4 linked regions of the Homo sapiens genome follow. The protein of the gene in region 1 purifies or fractionates together with the protein of each later gene. This does not show direct contact. Each region holds a gene or a part of one and is shown in the gene's direction. Other genes may lie near its edges.

What was found. The genes of interacting proteins can lie anywhere in the genome.
Region 2: the proteins of GPR52 (region 1) and RETREG2 purify together in Homo sapiens (affinity purification with mass spectrometry; 2 studies listed by BioGRID and IntAct, with this or other methods). This does not show direct contact.
Region 3: the proteins of GPR52 (region 1) and GPR89A purify together in Homo sapiens (affinity purification with mass spectrometry, with the first as the bait; 2 studies listed by BioGRID). This does not show direct contact.
Region 4: the proteins of GPR52 (region 1) and LMBR1 purify together in Homo sapiens (affinity purification with mass spectrometry; 3 studies listed by BioGRID and IntAct, with this or other methods). This does not show direct contact.

Annotation. Positions count from the first base shown.
Region 1 is NC_000001.11:174,446,567-174,450,239, forward strand, and holds GPR52 (G-protein coupled receptor 52), read left to right. Parts: upstream 1-1,397; 5' UTR 1,398-1,545; coding exon 1,546-2,631; 3' UTR 2,632-2,979; downstream 2,980-3,673.
Region 2 is NC_000002.12:219,181,275-219,183,624, forward strand, and holds part of RETREG2 (reticulophagy regulator 2), read left to right. Parts: intron 1-94; coding exon 95-189; intron 190-365; coding exon 366-501; intron 502-738; coding exon 739-1,355; 3' UTR 1,356-2,350. UniProt on the Homo sapiens protein: Endoplasmic reticulum (ER)-anchored autophagy regulator which exists in an inactive state under basal conditions but is activated following cellular stress.
Region 3 is NC_000001.11:145,628,488-145,631,987, forward strand, and holds part of GPR89A (Golgi pH regulator A), read left to right. Parts: intron 1-2,199; coding exon 2,200-2,320; intron 2,321-3,176; coding exon 3,177-3,257; intron 3,258-3,500. UniProt on the Homo sapiens protein: Voltage-gated channel that enables the transfer of anions such as iodide, chloride, bromide and fluoride which may function in counter-ion conductance and participates in Golgi acidification.
Region 4 is NC_000007.14:156,886,684-156,890,183, reverse strand, and holds part of LMBR1 (limb region 1 protein homolog), read left to right. Parts: intron 1-3,500. UniProt on the Homo sapiens protein: Putative membrane receptor.

The DNA of each region.
Region 1 (3,673 bases):
TTTGGATGGATTCTATCCTGGCAGCCTTGCAATGTTTCAAACTCTAGGATTTAAAGTTCATCTTGATACTTTAGAGGTATTTTAAAATAAGACTATCTTGCAACCTACCTAATGGCCCCTGTGTTAATTGAGCACTTGCTCAAAATAGAGTACAGAAAAATAGAAGAGGCATTTTTTAACATATGGCTGCTACATAACTGCAAATGTAATAAACAAGGTAATTTTCCACTTTCAGAAGATATAGTTGAAGTAATGATTTAATGTGTTAAATCATCTACTGAAAATAGAAAAGGTATAGCAACATAGAACATGAAGCCTATTAGAAATACCTAAGTAATAAATAATGGCAGCATTTCTGGTCAAATAAGCTCGGAGTATATTGGAAAGTTTTATTGTCTAACTTTATATTTACATATATATGTGAGATATGGGTATACAGTTGCAAAGGTGAGAAATAACTGTGAGCTACATATTTTATTATCATGCTCCATTATAAGGAAGGTGGTATATGAAATAACAAATGTTATTTTAAGTTATAGATGCCAAATTAATAGCAAAAATAATTCATTTTGAAAAGGAAGAGGTATAAGTTACGTTGCTGTTAGTACCACCAGTAACTGTAATGGATTAAAACTGCTTTCATCTAAATGCTTTAAAAATGCATGCAGAATTAAAACTTCAGAAGTTTATTACATTTTGCCAGGTGTTAATTCATTAATTCATTGTATATTCTCTTTTCTATTGGAAAATACTTTTTTCTCATGAGAGTTATAGGGCAATCTGGAGTCTGTTTGTTACCTCTATTCTGCCCATGTAGAGATGAATCTTTTCAAATTAACTTTGATAGAGTTGTTTTTCTTAGATTTTAGAAAAATGAGAAATAGGTTATAAATTTGACCCCCCAACATCAATCCCTGAACTAAGCCCAAAGACACTCTTTGCCACAATGAACTTTTTCTTAGCTTTTCAACCAAATTTGAGATCTTAAATTATTTAAAATCTAAAATATGAATGCATTTTTCATCATAGATAAAGCAGGAAGCCTGAGACAGTTTCAGAGTTTTTCTTTTCTCATTCTTTCCAGTTGCTCCCTAAGAAACTGCCTCTCTTAGGAGAACAGCCCACAGAAGCTTTTCTTCCTTTGGCAATTCATTTTTTTTCTTTTTACAGATTTAATTTTTCATAGTGCAAGATAATAAGAAGTCTATTTTCTCTAGAAGTGCCTTATGTCTGCAAAAAGTTCTTTGAGGGCACCAGAGGAAACTAATTAGTGACCTCTTTTCACCTCCTTTCTAGCTTATCCCCTTCTCTCCACCCCTTACCGCCCCCCCCCCACCCCCCCGCCCGAAAGCTGAGGTGTGTCACTGCTGAACTGAGGCTGGTGAAGAGACTTGAGCACTCTCTGGGACTCTCAGCTGTGACAGAAGCACTGACACTGTCTACTGAAGCAGGTTCTGAAACACTCATGTGCGGTGTTTAACAGATGCTGGGCAGGGCATCTGCTTGCTGTAGCCAAGTCTGCAGGTGTCTTTAAATTTCCAAGCCATGAATGAATCCAGGTGGACTGAATGGAGGATCCTGAACATGAGCAGTGGCATTGTGAATGTGTCCGAGCGTCACTCCTGCCCACTTGGATTTGGCCACTACAGTGTGGTGGATGTCTGCATCTTCGAGACAGTGGTTATTGTGTTGCTGACATTTCTGATCATTGCTGGGAATCTAACAGTTATCTTTGTCTTTCATTGTGCTCCACTGTTACATCATTATACTACCAGCTATTTCATTCAGACGATGGCATATGCTGATCTTTTCGTTGGAGTTAGCTGCTTGGTTCCTACTCTGTCACTTCTCCACTACTCCACAGGTGTCCACGAGTCATTGACTTGCCAGGTTTTTGGATATATCATCTCAGTTCTAAAAAGTGTTTCTATGGCATGTCTTGCTTGCATCAGTGTGGATCGTTATCTTGCAATAACCAAGCCTCTTTCCTACAATCAACTGGTCACCCCTTGTCGCTTGAGAATTTGCATTATTTTGATCTGGATCTACTCCTGCCTAATTTTCTTGCCTTCCTTTTTTGGCTGGGGGAAACCTGGTTACCATGGTGACATTTTTGAATGGTGTGCCACGTCTTGGCTCACCAGTGCCTATTTTACTGGCTTTATTGTTTGTTTACTTTATGCTCCTGCTGCCTTTGTTGTCTGCTTCACTTACTTCCACATTTTCAAAATTTGCCGTCAGCACACCAAAGAGATAAATGACCGAAGAGCCCGATTCCCTAGTCATGAGGTAGATTCTTCCAGAGAGACTGGACACAGCCCTGACCGTCGCTACGCCATGGTTTTGTTTAGGATAACCAGTGTATTTTATATGCTGTGGCTCCCCTATATAATTTACTTTCTTCTAGAAAGCTCCCGGGTCTTGGACAATCCAACTCTGTCCTTCTTAACAACCTGGCTTGCAATAAGTAATAGTTTTTGTAACTGTGTAATATACAGCCTCTCCAACAGCGTTTTCCGGCTAGGCCTCCGAAGACTGTCTGAGACAATGTGCACATCCTGTATGTGTGTGAAGGATCAGGAAGCACAAGAACCCAAACCTAGGAAACGGGCTAATTCTTGCTCCATTTGAAGAGAGCTACATAGTAAATCAAATGTAATCTGACAGTGGTTTTGGATCATATTCTAGATTCATCTGGAAATTTGCCATCAGAGAAATATTTACTTGAATAGTTGACTGTAAAATGAAGTATGAGACTAAAGGTTTCTCTCTTTTTTTTTCTTTTTCATGGAAGAAACTAAAGGGAAGGATGTATAGAGGGTTAGCTCATGAAATAATTATAGCATGTGAGTATTAGTGTGCAGTAATAGGAAAAATTAAGCACTGAGATGAAAAAGAATATCTCAAATCTTCTGCAGGACATGAGCAAGCCCCTTGGCTCAGCATTTCTGTCTTTCTGTCTGACTGTACCCTGCCTCTGTCTTTCTCATTTTGTCTATGTTTCTCTCACTCTTTGTGGAAGTTATTACTTACATAAACTGCCCTTTGTAGAAAAGTGCTACATATTATATATGTGGTAAAGTATAATCTTTTGCATCAAAGTGTACCTTTAATCACACTAATCTATAATCCATAAGTGATCTCTTCATGGAGGATGCACAGTAAGCATTGCATTTTATTATTTGCCAAACAACCCCTTTGCTTGTGTTTTTATAATGTTCTCTGCAGCACAGTTTTTCTGCTATAAACAAATAGAAACAGTATTTTTGTTTCTTCTGGGTAAAATGACATTTGCTTTTCCCTGGTTTCCTAACAGTCTCCTGTTTTTTTTCTCTCTTTTTCTTGATCTGCATCCATTGGTACCTTACTTTAGAAGTGTCTTAGCTATTGAAAGAATCTACTGTATAGAGCATCCATGATGTTAAATAATGTATTTCTTCCAGCAAAGCAATCTGGTAGCTTATTAAATATTTTTAATGGCTTTTGGAAACATTTTTATCTGGTTCCTTTTAAATTAGTTCATGTGCTTAAAAGTGATGTCTTTTTTTTGCTATAGTAAAGCTTTGTTTTTCTTTAAGAAAACCCACTAGTAATTGTAATGCAGATGCAGGATACTCACCCAGCAGTGAGGTATTACTCTTAAGGGTACTTAGAATGCCCTTTTTAAAAATAA
Region 2 (2,350 bases), on another chromosome or scaffold:
CTGGAATTGAGATCTTCTCCAGTTCTTTAGCTGTGTTTGTCTCCCCTCCCATCATTCATGCTTGGTCATTGCTCTACTACTCTTGCTTTTCTAGAGCGTCAGGGGAAGAATGCACCCCCAGGAGGTGATGAGCCACTGGCAGAGACAGAGAGTGAAAGCGAGGCAGAGCTGGCTGGCTTCTCCCCAGTGGTGAGGTCCAGGGAAAGCGGGGGTGTCAAATAGAAAGCCAGAGGAAAAATCTTTCTGCTTTGGAGCTGCCACCTCCAAAGGAGGTGGAAGCCAGAGGTTTTGGGAGAGGGGATGCTCCTGATAAATTGGTTCTCTTATCCCCTCACATGTCGTGTTCATCCTGGTTCTCCTGCCAGGTGGATGTGAAGAAAACAGCATTGGCCTTGGCCATTACAGACTCAGAGCTGTCAGATGAGGAGGCTTCTATCTTGGAGAGTGGTGGCTTCTCCGTATCCCGGGCCACAACTCCGCAGCTGACTGATGTCTCCGAGGGTATGGGGAGCCCTTTGCTGCCCTGCTCCCCGCCACAATCTTTGTGTTCCCTACCATGGGTACTTACTGTGCTCTCTGGCCCACTCACTCTCTAATTCTCTCAGCTCCTAAAAGACCTTAACACCTAAGGCTTGGCCCAGCTTTCCATGTCTTGAGTTCTCATCCTTGAACTCATTGTCTGTTGTGGCTAATCAGACCAGCAGCAGGCCCATTCTTAATTCTTTGTTCTCTGCACAGATTTGGACCAGCAGAGCCTGCCAAGTGAACCAGAGGAGACCCTAAGCCGGGACCTAGGGGAGGGAGAGGAGGGAGAGCTGGCCCCTCCCGAAGACCTACTAGGCCGTCCTCAAGCTCTGTCAAGGCAAGCCCTGGACTCGGAGGAAGAGGAAGAGGATGTGGCAGCTAAGGAAACCTTGTTGCGGCTCTCATCCCCCCTCCACTTTGTGAACACGCACTTCAATGGGGCAGGGTCCCCCCCAGATGGAGTGAAATGCTCCCCTGGAGGACCAGTGGAGACACTGAGCCCCGAGACAGTGAGTGGTGGCCTCACTGCTCTGCCCGGCACCCTGTCACCTCCACTTTGCCTTGTTGGAAGTGACCCAGCCCCCTCCCCTTCCATTCTCCCACCTGTTCCCCAGGACTCACCCCAGCCCCTGCCTGCCCCTGAGGAAGAAGAGGCACTCACCACTGAGGACTTTGAGTTGCTGGATCAGGGGGAGCTGGAGCAGCTGAATGCAGAGCTGGGCTTGGAGCCAGAGACACCGCCAAAACCCCCTGATGCTCCACCCCTGGGGCCCGACATCCATTCTCTGGTACAGTCAGACCAAGAAGCTCAGGCCGTGGCAGAGCCATGAGCCAGCCGTTGAGGAAGGAGCTGCAGGCACAGTAGGGCTTCCTGGCTAGGAGTGTTGCTGTTTCCTCCTTTGCCTACCACTCTGGGGTGGGGCAGTGTGTGGGGAAGCTGGCTGTCGGATGGTAGCTATTCCACCCTCTGCCTGCCTGCCTGCCTGCTGTCCTGGGCATGGTGCAGTACCTGTGCCTAGGATTGGTTTTAAATTTGTAAATAATTTTCCATTTGGGTTAGTGGATGTGAACAGGGCTAGGGAAGTCCTTCCCACAGCCTGCGCTTGCCTCCCTGCCTCATCTCTATTCTCATTCCACTATGCCCCAAGCCCTGGTGGTCTGGCCCTTTCTTTTTCCTCCTATCCTCAGGGACCTGTGCTGCTCTGCCCTCATGTCCCACTTGGTTGTTTAGTTGAGGCACTTTATAATTTTTCTCTTGTCTTGTGTTCCTTTCTGCTTTATTTCCCTGCTGTGTCCTGTCCTTAGCAGCTCAACCCCATCCTTTGCCAGCTCCTCCTATCCCGTGGGCACTGGCCAAGCTTTAGGGAGGCTCCTGGTCTGGGAAGTAAAGAGTAAACCTGGGGCAGTGGGTCAGGCCAGTAGTTACACTCTTAGGTCACTGTAGTCTGTGTAACCTTCACTGCATCCTTGCCCCATTCAGCCCGGCCTTTCATGATGCAGGAGAGCAGGGATCCCGCAGTACATGGCGCCAGCACTGGAGTTGGTGAGCATGTGCTCTCTCTTGAGATTAGGAGCTTCCTTACTGCTCCTCTGGGTGATCCAAGTGTAGTGGGACCCCCTACTAGGGTCAGGAAGTGGACACTAACATCTGTGCAGGTGTTGACTTGAAAAATAAAGTGTTGATTGGCTAGAACTGCTGCCTCCCTGACTGTGAGCTGCCTTCCACACCCTGCACTGCACTGTGTTCTCTCCTCACCCTTAACCTGCTTCACTCCAGTCTGTTCTGGCTGTTTATTACCTTGTTGCAAAACAGGGCCGAAGCAAG
Region 3 (3,500 bases), about 29 Mb from region 1:
AGACTCTGGAGCTAGACTGCACTTGAATCCTGACTCTGCCCCTTTTATCTGTGTGGCCTTAACTAAGTTACTTAACCTCTCTGTGCCTCCATTTCTTCATCTGTAAAATTAGGTTTTCAATAATATCTACCTCATAGGATTGTTATGAGGGTTAAATGAATTAGAACATGTGAAATGCTTAGAACAGTGCCTAGTCATAGCAGGTGCTTGGTGAATATTACCTATTGCCATTACAATTACTAGTGAAAGTAATTTCATTCAATAAAGAAGAATGGGAAGAAAGCTGGATTGCAGTCAGTTAAGGAATGAACTGGAGGTGAAGAAAAGGTGACAATAACTATAAACTTCTTTTAAGAAGCCTGGCTATTAAGGAGGAAATAGATGGGGGTTGGTAACTAGACGTAAACTCGAAGCCAAGAACAGAATTTCTCTTAGAAAAGAGAATTGAAACTAAAGAGAAAGAACTAGCAAAGAAGGAAATATTGAATATACAAGAGAGAGGAGACAGATGATGGAACAAGACTCTGAAAGAGGTGGAAGGGATTGAATACAATCAAAAGTATGGTGACTGCTAGTTCCAAGATGGTGGCGTAGGGGCAAGCTGGCTTTGCTTACCCCCCTGGCAGAAAACCAAAAACAAATAGCACCAAGATTATCACTAGCAATATCCCAGAACTCACATATAAGGATGAGACAGTTCCCAGGGCCCAGAGAAGATCAGAAGCACAAGTGGAGAAGTCAGCTTTGGATGCTACTTTGTTCTAAGGGAGACAAGTTGGGAGGATGATTGCAGATGTATATTCAATGTTATAAAACAGCCCATAAAACAAAGATTGGAAAATGTTGAATTTTGCAACCAGGAGAAAATTCATGACCATAGTGTAGAGTGAAGGTAGTTTATGGCTAATAGCTATGTCTTTTATAATAAGGACATTGGCAAAGGAGAAGGACAAAGGTAGGAAAAATAAAGAGTAACTGCCGAAGACAATGGAGAGAGATGGCTGACCAAGGGCAAGATAAGGATTAGTCAATAGTGTGAGAGCTCTCTTAGGACTGGAGACCATACATTTGTAATGGCTCCAAAATCAGTACGCATTCTAGCAATTTGAGGCAGCAAAACATGGGCACAGGGAAGGCAGAGTGTTAGACTGATCCAGAGTTGGGAATTTGTAGGATTAGCGCTTCAGAAGGAAGATAGTAGGAGATTGAGGCTCCTGGTGAGAGAATTTGAAGCCAGCAAGCCTGGAGTCCAAGCTAGGTGAAGAATGGAGAAGCAGAAGACCAGAGGTTGCACTGACCTCTAAAACGAGTGTAGTGGAAATAGAAAGACTAGGAATGGAGGCCAGTAGTCAGAAAAGGAATATTGGAATTTTCAGTTTTGAAGCTGACAGAATTCCTGAATTATAGCTCTGGCATTTGACCATAGGAGTGGATGGCTGTAGTGAATTCTATCCTAGAAATAGAAAGTGAAAACCAGTTAAAACCATTCTTTTTCTGCAATGCCAAACTTACTGAGTTATTCTTCAGCATTGCTTTCTCTCATTTATCCCAAATACATCAACCAGCAGTATTTATTTTAACTGCTAAGTTGATTTTCAGCATTCTCACGTGATATGAAACAATTGATAATTAGGATACAATTTATAATCCGAAACTGATGTGTTTGCCTTTGAATTACTCATTCATCTATAAGTTTAGTCCTTTTATTAGATGAATTCTGTGTTTATTGGATGCAAAAAAGAATAAGACAAAAGCAAAAGAGTATCACCTTAGGGGAAATACATATATATCAAAGATAATTAGCACAAAGTAGTTCCTGCTATTTATACTTTTCCAGCAGATTTACTTTCTTAGTTTTTTTTTTTTTGGCCGATGCTTTTACTAAAAGTACTTTGCTTTGTTAGCATTCATGCTACCAAGAGTAAACAGTCAATGATTGTTATTTATAATTATTGTTGTTATTATTTTACTGCTATCACCCAATAAAAGAGATCACTCTGAAGCATATGGGACAGGAGGAAAATCAGTAAACTTTTAGTATATTTATTATAAATCATCTACACATTAATAATTAAAAGTTGGCTTGTATGAGTTAGTTATGTGTAATGGTTAATGTTTTAAATAATGTTTCCTTTTGCAGTACAGATGAGAGCCATTTTGTCTATATTACCTGGCATTAATGTGCCTTGATGTTTTTAGGGATCTTATCCATAGAACAGCTCATCAGCCGGGTTGGTGTGATTGGAGTGACTCTCATGGCTCTTCTTTCTGGATTTGGTGCTGTCAACTGCCCATACACTTACATGTCTTACTTCCTCAGGTAACAGAGCGCTTTGCATCCTTTCTTTTTTGCCCCATTACTTCTTGAATACATATGTCATATTATGCCACCATCTTTAAGATTATATATTAGATCTATGACACTGTCTTTTTATTCTTCTCTTCCTCTGTCCCTGTGGGCATTGACCTGGAAATCTTTCTAAATAAGTATTATCACTTGTACGGCTTGCCTTTATTATTTGTCCTACATTCATTTATTTTTTAAATGGCAAATTTCAATCTGACACTCCCCTCCCACTTTTTTAAAGGCACATTTCTAGTGACCAGCAGTATAAACCAACTCCAACTTCAGCAGTTCAGCTCCCCTCCTAGATATTAACAGAACAGTAGAAGACAATGCCAAGTTAAAAGTGTGCTTAAACATACATCCTAAATGTCACTGAGCTGAGATCATGCCACTGCACTCCAGCCTCGGCGACAGAGCTAGACTCTTTCATAAATAAATGACGGGTTGATGGGTGCAGCAAACCATCATGGCACGTGTATACCTATGTAACAAACCTGCATGTTCTACACATGTATCCGAGAACTTAAAGTATAATAAAAAATAAAATAAAAATATTTAAATATATATTTTATATATATATATAAATGTAACTGGATCAAAGCTAAGAAAAACTGTAAGAGAGCTGGGTGAATTCCATTTCCCTGAGATCCCAGAGGATTAGCTATAAGAAATGAGAGCAAAGGCATTTTAGTTTATTATGGTCATTTTACTATTTTCTAGAAAAAAGTAGTAGGTAACAGTTGAAGTCTATGTTTGTCTCCAGATACCCTGTATCATGCCCAAGAGTGGGACCCCAAAACATTTTGCTAGCAGTTTGTGCTTTTTGTAGGAATGTGACTGACACGGATATTCTAGCCCTGGAACGGCGACTGCTGCAAACCATGGATATGATCATAAGCAAAAAGAAAAGGTAAGATATCAACACTGTAATACATTTGGACTCTTACAATTTCTCAACAAGAAAATTTGACTGTGAATTGGTGCTGGCAGGGAATTTTATCTTATTCATTTTTACTATAAGGTAAAGTACCAGATTTAGTGTTGGCTGGACACAGTGGCTCACACCTGTGATCCCAGCACTTTGGGAGGCCACGACGGGGGGATCATTTGAGCCCAGAAGTTCGAGACTAGCCTGGGTAACATAGTGAGACCC
Region 4 (3,500 bases), on another chromosome or scaffold:
TTTTGTGTCTGGTGCAAGGTAGGAGTCATATTTTTTTCTCCCACAGGAATGTCCAATTGCTTCAGCACTATTTAGGACTTTTGTCACAGATAGGTAACTGTATATTCATAGGGTTTAATTTTGGACTTTATGTGGTTTTATTGGTCTATTTGTCTTTAGTTTTATTATTTTTTAAAATTTGAGACAGGTTCTCCCTCTGTTGACCAGGCTGTCGTGCAGTGGCGCAATCATGGCTCACTGCAGCCTTGACTTCCAAGGCTCAGGCGATCCTCCCACCTCAGCTTCCCAAGTAGCTGGGACTACAGGCTTGAATCATACAGGTGTGCACTAACAGACCCAGCTAATCTTTTAATTTTTTGTAGAGGTGAGGTCTCACCGTGTTGCCCAGACCTGTCTCCTGGGCTCAAGTGATCCTCCTGCTCTTTGGCTTTACTTTTAATTAATTAGATATTCTAGAATTTGGGTTGAGAAAGGGACACATTGTAAAACAGTCCAGAGCTTCGTCTACTCCCCTGAAAACGGTTTTGGTACCGATTATGGAGTTCTTTAGTTCTGACTCTCCTCACCTGTTTCCCTCAACCCAGTACCCCTGGCTGGTTGAGTCTACTCCATCTTCTACAGAACCAGCGCAGACAGTGACCAGGCTCAGGGTTCCCAGTCTTTGGCATTTCTTTCTCAAATGATTTATATTTAGAGTGAATGTAAATACTTTTTCTCTAAGACCTGTTGCCAATTTTTAAAATTATTCAATTCTTTCTGATTTTGCTACATAATGCTATAATTGCTTAACTTTTTTATCATAATAAGATATATATATATAACATGCAATTTACCATATCTAAATATACAGTTCAGTGGCGTTAAATACATTCACATTGTTGTGCAACCACCACCACTATCCATTTCCAGATCTTTTTCATCAACTGAAACTTGATACCCATGAAACAGTAACTCTCCATTCTTCACTCTCTCCAGCTGCTGGTTCTGCCTATATGAATCTGACTATTCCCAGTTGAACCATACAATATTTGTCCTTTTCTATCTGGCTTATTTCACTTAGCATAATGCCTTCAAAGTTCACCTGTGTTGTAGCATGTGTCAAAATTTCTTTTTCTTTCTTTTTTTTTTTTGAGACAGAGTCTTTCTCTGTTGCCCAGGCTAGAGTGCAGTGGCGTGATCTCGGCTCATTGCAACCTCTCCCTCCCTGGTTCAAGCAATTCTCCTGCCTCAGCCTCCCGAGTAGCTGGGATTACAGGCATGCGCCACCGCACTTGGCTAATTTTTGTATTTTTAGTAGAGATGGGTTTCACCATGTTGGCCAGGCTGGTCTTGAACTCCTGACCCCAGGTGATCCACCTGCCTCAGCCTCCCAAAGTGCTGGGATTACAGGTGTGAGCCACTGTGCCTGGCCTCATTTTTTAATTTTTTGTAGAGATGGGGTTTTTGCTATGTTGCCCAGGCTGTTCTTGAACTCCTGGCCTCAAGTGATGCACCCACCCTGGCCTCCCAAAGTGCTGGGATTACAGGCGGGAGCCAACGTGCCTGGCCCAGAATTTGTTCAGGCTGAATAATATTTTCTTTTTGTGTATACTGTATTTTGCTTACCCATTCATTCATCAATTGACCTGAGTTGTTTCTGTTTTTGGCTATTGTGAATAATGCTGCTGTGATCATGGGTATGCAAATATCTATTAGAGTCCCTGCTTTCAATTCAGAAGTAGAATTGCTGGATCATATGATAATTCTATGTTTAATTTTTTTTTTTTTTTTTTTTGAGACAGAGTCTCGCTGTGTTTCCCAGGCTGGAGTGCAGTGACTCAATCTCGGCTCACTGCAAGCTCCGCCCCCCCGGTTCATGCCATTCTCCTGCCTCAGCCTCCCGAGTAGCTGGGACTACAGGCACCCGCCACCACGCCCAGCTAACTTTTTGTATTTTTAGTAGAGACGGGGTTTCACCATGTTAGCCAGGAAGGTCTTGATCTCCTGACCTCGTGATTCGCCCGCCTCAGCCTCCCAAAGTGCTGGGATTACAGGCGTGAGCCACCACGCCCGGCCTCTATGTTTAATTTTTTTGAGGAACTGCCATACCATTTTCCACAGAGGCTGTACCATTTTATATTCCCACTAGCAAGGAGCCAGAGTTTCTGGTTCTTCCGCATCTTCACCAACACACATTGTTTTCTGTTTTTCTTCTTTTTTTTAAAATGGATGTGAAATGGTATCTGATGCTGGATTTGATTTGCATTTCCCTAATTATAAGTGAAGTTCAGCATTGTTTCATGTGCTTATTGACTATATGGACATCTTCTTTGGAGAAATATCTGTTCTTTGCCTGTTTTTGAATTGAGTTGCTTGATTTTTGTTGTTTAGTTTTAGGAGTTCTTTATATATTCTGAATATTAACCCCTTATCAGACATGTGATTTGCAAACACTTCTCGCCCATTCTGTAGGGTTGCCTTTTTACTCTATTGCTAGTGTCCTTTGATGCACAAAAGTTTTTAATTTTGTAGTCCAATTGATCTATTTTTTCATTTGTTGCCTGTGTTTTTTTGTGTCATATCCAAGAATTCATCACCAACTGGCATCATCACCAACTGGCATCATGAAGGTTTTCCTCTAAGAGTTGTATAGTTTTAGCTCTTAGGTTTAGGTCTGATCCATTTTGAATTAATTTTTTTGTACAATATAGTGTTTAACTTTTTTTTTTTTTTTTTTTTTTGAGATGGAGTCTCACTCTGTCGCCAGGTTGGAGTGCAGTGGCACAATCTCAAGGCTCACTGCAACCTCCGCCTCCCGGGTTCAGGCAATTCTCCTGCCTCAGCCTCCCGAGTAGCTGGGACTACAGGCGAGCGTCACCACACCCAGCTAATTTCTGTACTTTTAGTAGAGACGGGGTTTCACCATGTTGGCCAGAATGGTCTCAATCTCTTGACCTCGTGATCTGCCGCCTCGGCCTCCCAAAGTGCTGGGATTACAGGCGTGAGCCACCGCGCCCAGCCTAGTGTTTAACTTTTAAATACTCATGTAATAATTTTGTCTTTTGTATTATGAATATCTCATAGTTCTCTTGTCAGTTGCTTTAGTGATCATATTTGACTTTGGCTATTAGTATCAGGTAGTAATGATTGATTTCCTTTCTTTTGAGAGCTAGCTATGAAATCCTAAGGCTGCCAGCTAACTGAGTATACCCTCTCTTGGCTAAGGGGACCCCAGGAAACCTTAAAAACTGAATTCCCAACCAGAATGGGATGGGACATCTGACACGCCTCAGTATACCCCCTCCCTTTTGAGGTTTAAACACAGCTGACCAGCATTAATGTTAAAATAGAGATCTGAAGACTGAGAGAACAGACTCTTTGTGGCAATAAAATACCCAACTGTGAACAAAATGTAGGGCCATGCCAGGCAAGGGTTAAGTAAAGCATCCCCTTAAAGAATAAACTGGTTCTAACTGCCTCAAGGTGTTTCTTTTTTTCTAGCGGCTAAACAAGCACTGGCC